Linked DNA regions of Homo sapiens. The protein of the gene in region 1 purifies or fractionates together with the protein of each later gene. This does not show direct contact. Each region holds a gene or a part of one and is shown on either strand. Other genes may lie near its edges.

Evidence for each region. Proteins that work in one complex are often made in the same cells at the same time.
Region 2: the proteins of PTPN2 (region 1) and CMKLR1 purify together in Homo sapiens (co-immunoprecipitation; one large-scale study listed by IntAct). This does not show direct contact.

The regions. Positions count from the first base shown.
Region 1 is NC_000018.10:12,825,202-12,828,854, reverse strand, and holds part of PTPN2 (tyrosine-protein phosphatase non-receptor type 2), read left to right. Parts: intron 1-2,910; coding exon 2,911-3,045; intron 3,046-3,653. UniProt on the Homo sapiens protein: Non-receptor type tyrosine-specific phosphatase that dephosphorylates receptor protein tyrosine kinases including INSR, EGFR, CSF1R, PDGFR.
Region 2 is NC_000012.12:108,332,790-108,336,442, reverse strand, and holds part of CMKLR1 (chemerin-like receptor 1), read left to right. Parts: intron 1-3,653. UniProt on the Homo sapiens protein: Receptor for the chemoattractant adipokine chemerin/RARRES2 and for the omega-3 fatty acid derived molecule resolvin E1.

The DNA of each region.
Region 1 (3,653 bases):
GCTGCCCAGACCTGGAACCAGCCATTTCTCTAAGGAGTTTTGGTTTCTTTTAATGGGCAGCAGTATTTCAAGATCACAGCAAAAATAAGGATATATATTGCAACTGGACTGGTCATTGTTTTTAGGGCTTTTCAGTGGACAAAAGCTAAGGAACAATATGCATATGTTAAGATAACATACTTCAAGAGTTCATAATGATATTCCCAGTTCAAATTTGGAACTATAAGTGTTGCTTAGCCCCTTCCATCTTACATCTGCTATTTCCTTTTTCATACCAAGAATCCTGGTTCTCAAAGATATGAGAGATGTAAACTATCTTGTAATGACTCATTTCCTTCTTCCCATATCATATACAATATATAACCATAATCATGATATCATCTGCTACCAAAATAATTACTGAAAATGGTTTACAATTTTTAATATTTTTTTCATTCTCTTCCTGGTGTTTCTGAGTTGTACTTTACAAACTGTAGTCTCTCCCTTACATCTCTTGTAGACTCTTAGTTCTACAAGCAAGCATTATTTAATATTCATCAACAGTCTTTGCTGATGTCTCTCCAGTCATTCTGACTAAAGCTCATTCTCTAGTGGCTCCTAAGGAGGGACTTGTGAGCATTATAGTCTGATTTTTTTACATGTCAGTGATGGTTCATCTGCTGTCTTAATATCTGAAAGTCAGTTTGGCGGGATATAAAATCCTTGGCTCATGTGCTATTCTTTGAACAACTTTTTTTTTCCATTTCCTTCTGGTATTCCACCAAAGTCTAATGGACATCTTATTTCCTTTATAAGTCTCTTGTTCTTTTTATCTGCACTACCCAAAGAATTCTTTTTTTCTTTTTCTTCAGATATTATTAGTTTTACCAAAAATATGTCTTAGTAATTGGCCATTCTGGGTCAGTTTTTACAGGTACATGATGTGTTCTTGAGAGTTTGACTTCAAGTACTTTTTAAAATTTTTTAAATACTTTTTGTTAAAGAAATATTTGTTGAATTACAGTCCTTAGTATTTGTTCTGCTCCCTTGCTTGCTTTAATGTTCTTCTTTGGGTCTTCCTATTATACGTATGTTGGATTTTCTTTGCCTACCTTTTTTATTTGTCACGTTCTCTTTAATCCTGTTTATCTCTTTATTTCTATTTTACTTAAAAAAAATTTTTTTTTTTCTGGCCAGGTTGGAGGGCTTACACCTATAATCCCAGCACTTTGGGAGGCTGAGGCAGGAGGGTCACTTGAGCCCAGGAATTCAAAACCAGCCTCGACAACAAAGTGAGACCCTGCCTCTACAAAAAATACAAAAAGTAGCCAGGTGTGGTGGCACGCACCTGGAGTCCCAGCTGGGGTTGGGGGATTGCTTGAGCCCAGAAGATTGAGGCTGAAGTGAGCCAAGTTCACCCCAGTGCACTCCAGCCTGGGCTACTACAGAGCAAGACACTGTCTCTTAAAAAAAAAAAAAATTATTTATTTTCCTCTTAAGGCATTATTATTATTATTATTTTTTTTTTTTTTTGAGACGGAGTCTCGCTCTGTCGCCCAGGCTGGAGTGCAGTGCTGCTATCTCGACTCACTGCAAGCTCCGCCTCCCAGGTTCACGCCATTCTTCTGCCTCAGCCTCCCAAATAGCTGAGGCTACAGGCGTCCACCACCACACCCGGCTAATTTGTTGTATTTTTAGTAGAGACGGGGTTTCACTGTGTTAGCCAGGATGGTCTCGATCTCCTGACCTCATGATCCGCCTGCCTCAGCCTCCCAAAGTGCTGGGATTACAGGCGTGAGCCACCGCGCTTGGCCAGCAACATTTATTTTGAAGATAAAATTATTGCAAGAGTTTGATAATTTTAGAAACATAAAGTGAATGTCCCATGACGTTAAAATATAGGTAATCATGCTTTAAGAATGATAAATTTATTTTTATTTTATGAATATGATACCTATGGCTTTTTTAGTTTATAAGTTACAGGAACACTTAAAAAATACCTTATAAGACCGGACATGGTGGCTCACGCCTGTAATCCCAGCACTTTGGGAGGCTGAGGTTGGTGGTTCACTTGAGGTCAGGAGTTCAAGACCAGCCTGGCCAACATGGCAAAACCCTGTCTCTACTAAAAATACAAAAATTAGCTGGGTGTGGTGGCAGACGCCTGTAATCCCAGCTGCTCAGAAGGCTGAGGCAGGAGAATTGCTTGAACCCAGGAGGCAGAGGTTGCAGTGAGCCAACATCACGCCACTGCATTCCAGCCTGGGCGACAGAGCAAGACTCCAGCTCAAAAGAAAAGAAAAGCCTATGGAGACAGAAAATGGATCAGTGCTTGCCTGTGGCTTGGAGTGGGAATAGGACACAAGGGGATTTCTGAGTCTGAGAGAAATGTTCTAAAACTGGCTTACAGTGATGACTGCACACACATAAAAAATGCTTTATAAAATTTCAATCTCTACCCGCCCTGCTCCCCGAGATGGAGTCTTGCTCTGTCACCCAGACTGGAGTGCAGTGGAATGATCTTGGCTCACTGCAACCTCCACCTCCTGGGTTCAAGCGATTCTCCTGCCTCACTCTCACAAGTAGCTGGGATTACAGGCGCCCGCCATCGCGCCTAGCTAGTTTTTGTATTTTTAGTAGAGACAGGGTTTCACCATATTAGCCAGGTTGGTCTCGAACTCCTGATCTCAGGTGATCCTCCCGCCTCAGCCTCCCAAATTGTTGGGATTACAGGCGTGAGTCACCGCGCCCGGCTATAAAATTTCAATCTTACTAAAATACATTAAGCGTAGAATATAGTAGTGACTTCTTAGTTTTGGGTACTTGAAAAAATATAGCATGTATATATCTGGTTTGTTTTCATTTTTTAACTTTATGGTTTCATGATGTCTATAAACTAAAAAAAAATCATATACATATTTCTAAATTTAGGTTAAATGTGCACAGTACTGGCCAACAGATGACCAAGAGATGCTGTTTAAAGAAACAGGATTCAGTGTGAAGCTCTTGTCAGAAGATGTGAAGTCGTATTATACAGTACATCTACTACAATTAGAAAATATCAATGTAAGACCTTTCTTGCCCGAAATTGTGGACTTTATATGATGGTTTAAAGAATTATTCTTTATTATTAGATTTGAAGTTTGATAAGCACATGCATTTGGATAATTCCTATAGTATCTAGCCATAATCACGTGTTTTTAGATTGTGTGTCTGCATCTAGTAGCTTTCTGAGGACTCTGAAGAAACAGTAGAAACTAAGAATTTCAAAGTTCAGTTTGATATTTGGGGATTAAAAATTAATTAATAGAAATACATGAGGATTAATAGAGAGGGCTTTAGAATCAGGCAAACCTGGATTCAGATCCAGCTCTGCTGCTTAGTAGAGCTGTACTTTAGACTTGTTCCCCACCCTCACTGATCCCTTCCTCATCTGTAAAATGGAGGTTACCACGCCTTCCCTCCGGGGCTGTCCTGAAGGTCAAATGAGGATGTGTATGCAGAGCACCTGACCTTAGTAAATGCCCAGCAAGCAATAGCTCCCAGGACCTGTGACTGCCAAGAATAGCAAAATAGTCAAGAAAATAACTTACAAAGCTATTGTTAAGTGATTCACAACACAAAAATTTGTCCCTATTGAGTTGGAAAAAAAATGGTGTTTTATATATATATGT
Region 2 (3,653 bases), on another chromosome or scaffold:
TCCCAAGTAGCTGCGACTACAGGCACCCACCACCCCGCCCGGCTAATTTTTTGTATTTTTAGTAGAGACGGGGTTTCACCGTATTAGCCAGGATGGTCTCAATCTCCTGACCTTGTGATCCACCCACCTCGGCCTCCAAAAGTGCTGGGATTACAGGCGTGAGCCACTGCGCCCGGCCAATTGTGAGTGTTTCTTAAAGCTTCAGTTTGGAAATCAGAATCTCTGTGGATGAGGCTTCAGTGTCTGCATGTTGAACCAGCACCCCAGGTCATTCAGATGCACCCCAAAACTTGAGAACTACCAACCTAGAGTGCTTAAAAGTCTTTCCTTTTTGCCCTTTGTTCACACTGGGGTCTTGGGTTCTTTGCTGCACAATAAGGTTTCTTTTTTCCCTTCTAAGCAAATATTCATGTACTTCTGTGAATCCACATGTTCCGTGTCAGCAGTTGAGGCCAGAAGGTTTGGCAGAGAAGAAGCGAAACTTTGTCTTATAGTACCACAGAAAGTCAGATCGTGTTAGCAATCCCCCAGCATGGAGGCTTTGAAATTATTTTCAGTTGCAGAATCCTTTCCACAAATGAAAGTCTTATGGGGAAGTGTAATTTGAAAACAGATAAAGGTGGTGTTATTCTTGTTGAAACAGAGGTGGAAGACTCCAGGCTGCCACTAAATCTCACTCTTGTTGCTGAAGGGCCTCTAAGAATCTTTGTAGCTCCATGGGGCAGGCAGGAAACTGCAACTCCTCTACTCCAAGGAGTTAAGAGACCAAAGTTCTAGACATTTGTTGAGCTTACTGTGTGACCTTGGCAAGGCACTCTTACTCTTTGGCCACAATAATTTCATCTGTAAATAAGGAGGTCGAATGGTATATCAGCTAGGGTAGTAGCTGCAGTAACAAATAGGTCCCCAAAGGCATAAGGGCTGAAGCAAAGCAGAGCTTTATTATAAGGCAAGTATTTCTGAATGGAGGGTGGTCCTCTTCCTCATGGTACTTCAGTGACTCATCTGGTGGTCCCACTCTCTCCTCAGATATCCTCATTGTCTGCAGCCAGGTGCACAAGACAAAAGAAAGTATGGAGGTGGCATATTTGCTTATCTGCTTTGGCCTGGAAGCAGCAGACATGACTTCCACTCACATGAGAACTATCATGTGGCCAATCTAGTTGCAAAGGAGGCCAGGACATGGAGTTACAAGGATATGAGGTTCTTGGCAAAGAGCAGCTCTTTCCCAGCCACAGTCGTGTATTGTGGACAGGGAGAATGAATTTTTGTGGACAGCTACCTGTCTCTGTCACAAATGTGGTGACCTCTTGGGTTGCTTCCATTCTTTGATTCTAAGTCTACATTTCCATTAGTCAATCTTAGTTAACATGGTGATGTTGGACTCACAACATCACCTATCCTCAAGGTAATTCCCATCAAATATACTAAGTAAATTTCCAGACTCCAGGCCCCTAAACATGGATTTTTCTGAAACATAGGCAACTGCCATTCTCTTTTCCCCCTGGAAAAAGGAAATAAGAATAATGGTTTGATAGAACATGCTGCGGGTTATTAAGCCAAAGGTATTTATATCCATTATCTACTTGAATCTCCCTACAAGCCTACATGGAAAGGCCTCAGGACTATCATCCCCATTTTATAGGTGAATAAAATGAGGCTCAGAGAGCTAAAGGGACTTGCCTAAGGTCACACAGCTCATAGCAAAAGAATGGGATTTGAACGAAAAACATCTTATTCCTGTCCTAGGGCCCCACTGCACATTTGAATGTTGGTGTTCATGTACGTGTACATGGTGTGGTTAGAGTCGGGATTTTCCTTGGGCTGGGCTCCCCCAGGGCTGGGCATGAGGGAAGTGAAAGCTCAGGAATCATGCTCAAACTCCCCAGAATGGGCCAAGGCTGCTGACTGTAAGGCAGCTGGGTGGTTGTCCTAGGTCCTGGGGTGAAGAAGTACAGTGTGACCAAGTATTACAGCCACTGGCTGTGTAAAAGAGAAGGGACAGTGCATGAGGGTGTTGTGTGGTCCTGGAAGACACTGAGGCTTCAACTGGGCTGGCCACATAGTGGGTGCCTGGGAGCACTTTCCTGTGTGAATAAATGCATGTGGGAGTAACAGCTGCAGCACTGTGAGAAAATGAGATGAATCAGACCTGCTTCCTGTCTTTGAGGCCCTCAGGGGAGGAGAGACAAACTTGTAACATATACTTTTATTAATTCACTCAACAAACATTTATTAGCATCTACTACACGTCTGGCTCTCCACAGGGCAAGAACGATGGAAAGACAGGATTCCTATCCTTGTGGAACCCATTTGAGAGATGAGGAAAGTGAGGCCCTGATTGGTTACGTGACATTCCCAAGATCATTTGGCCAGATTAGGACTTGAAACACCTGGCTTCCAGCCCAGCACTTTTTCCATAGCCCCTGCTGAGGAGGTGGCCGTAGGCCAGGACTGAGATGCAGTGAGGAGCCCCTGTTATTGGCAGCCACTTTGAGCTGCCGCCGGACTCAGGACATGCTGGTTTCAGGCGATAGCACGAAACCAGTTATTTCTTTTTAGAACCTCTAGATTTTTGCAGCAATGGACACAGGTATGAATGAGAAAAAGTAGAAATCCTTGCACTGTCAGATGGAATCAAGAGGCAGTAATTCTACGTGGTGCTATCAGAGAAAGAAATGTTGACGTCTGGGTGACGTTGGCTGGTAGCACACTGTGGTGATGATAGATCCCAGATCCAAGTGCTCCAGAGTTGAGATCCCAGCTCTGAACTTTAACCTCCTGAGCCCCTCAGCTTCCTCATTCATAAGGTGGGCATGCTATGAGTACCTGCCTGTCAGGGTTATGGTGAGATTAAATGAGTCCATATCCATCAAGCACTGAGTACAGCACGTGGTCAGTTCAGTGAAGGCATTTCTATTTTTATTTTTGGGACAGTGAGCTTTGAAATTGGCCTTTGCACATCTGGGTGTCTGGTGCCTTGTGATCTTGGGTTCCCAGACTGGAAAATGTCATTTGGGCTAGTCTCTTGCCTCCATGTCTGGCCCCAAGGAGAGGTCTTGGGCTCTGCTGGTGGAGAGTGCCCTGGGCCTCACTGTCTTCACCATAGACAGTCTCTGGCAATGTTGGAAGTACCAGCGGCTGACTCAGCAGGGAGGTCAGCTGCTATCCAGGCAGAATGTCAGAATCGGTTCTGCTTTCTTGGGGTATAGGACATGGGTCCTCAGATTCCAGCCCTGGGTTCCTGCTGAGGGCAGCTCTTGTGCAAGGAGGTGGGTGGGTGGGGAGATGGGTACAAAAAACAACAGTGAGCACACTTGGTTTTTCCTCCTGGAAATCAGGGGTCAGAGAAACAGGAAGTCAATGGAGAGAGGGTGTGGTGTAGTGAGAAGAGGGCAGGCCCTGTGGTCTGGCAGATGTGAGTTCTAATCCTGGGTTTGACACCTATTGATTTATTTTTTATTTTTTGAGACAAAATCTCATTCTGTCACCCAGGCTGGAGTGTAGTGACATGATCACAGCTCATTTGCAGCCTCGACCTCTGGGGCTTAAGTAATCCTCCCACCTCCTGAGTAGGTGGGACTATAGGCATGCATTACCATGTCTGGCTAGTTTTTGTATTTTTTGTAGAGACAGGATGTATTAGTCAGGGT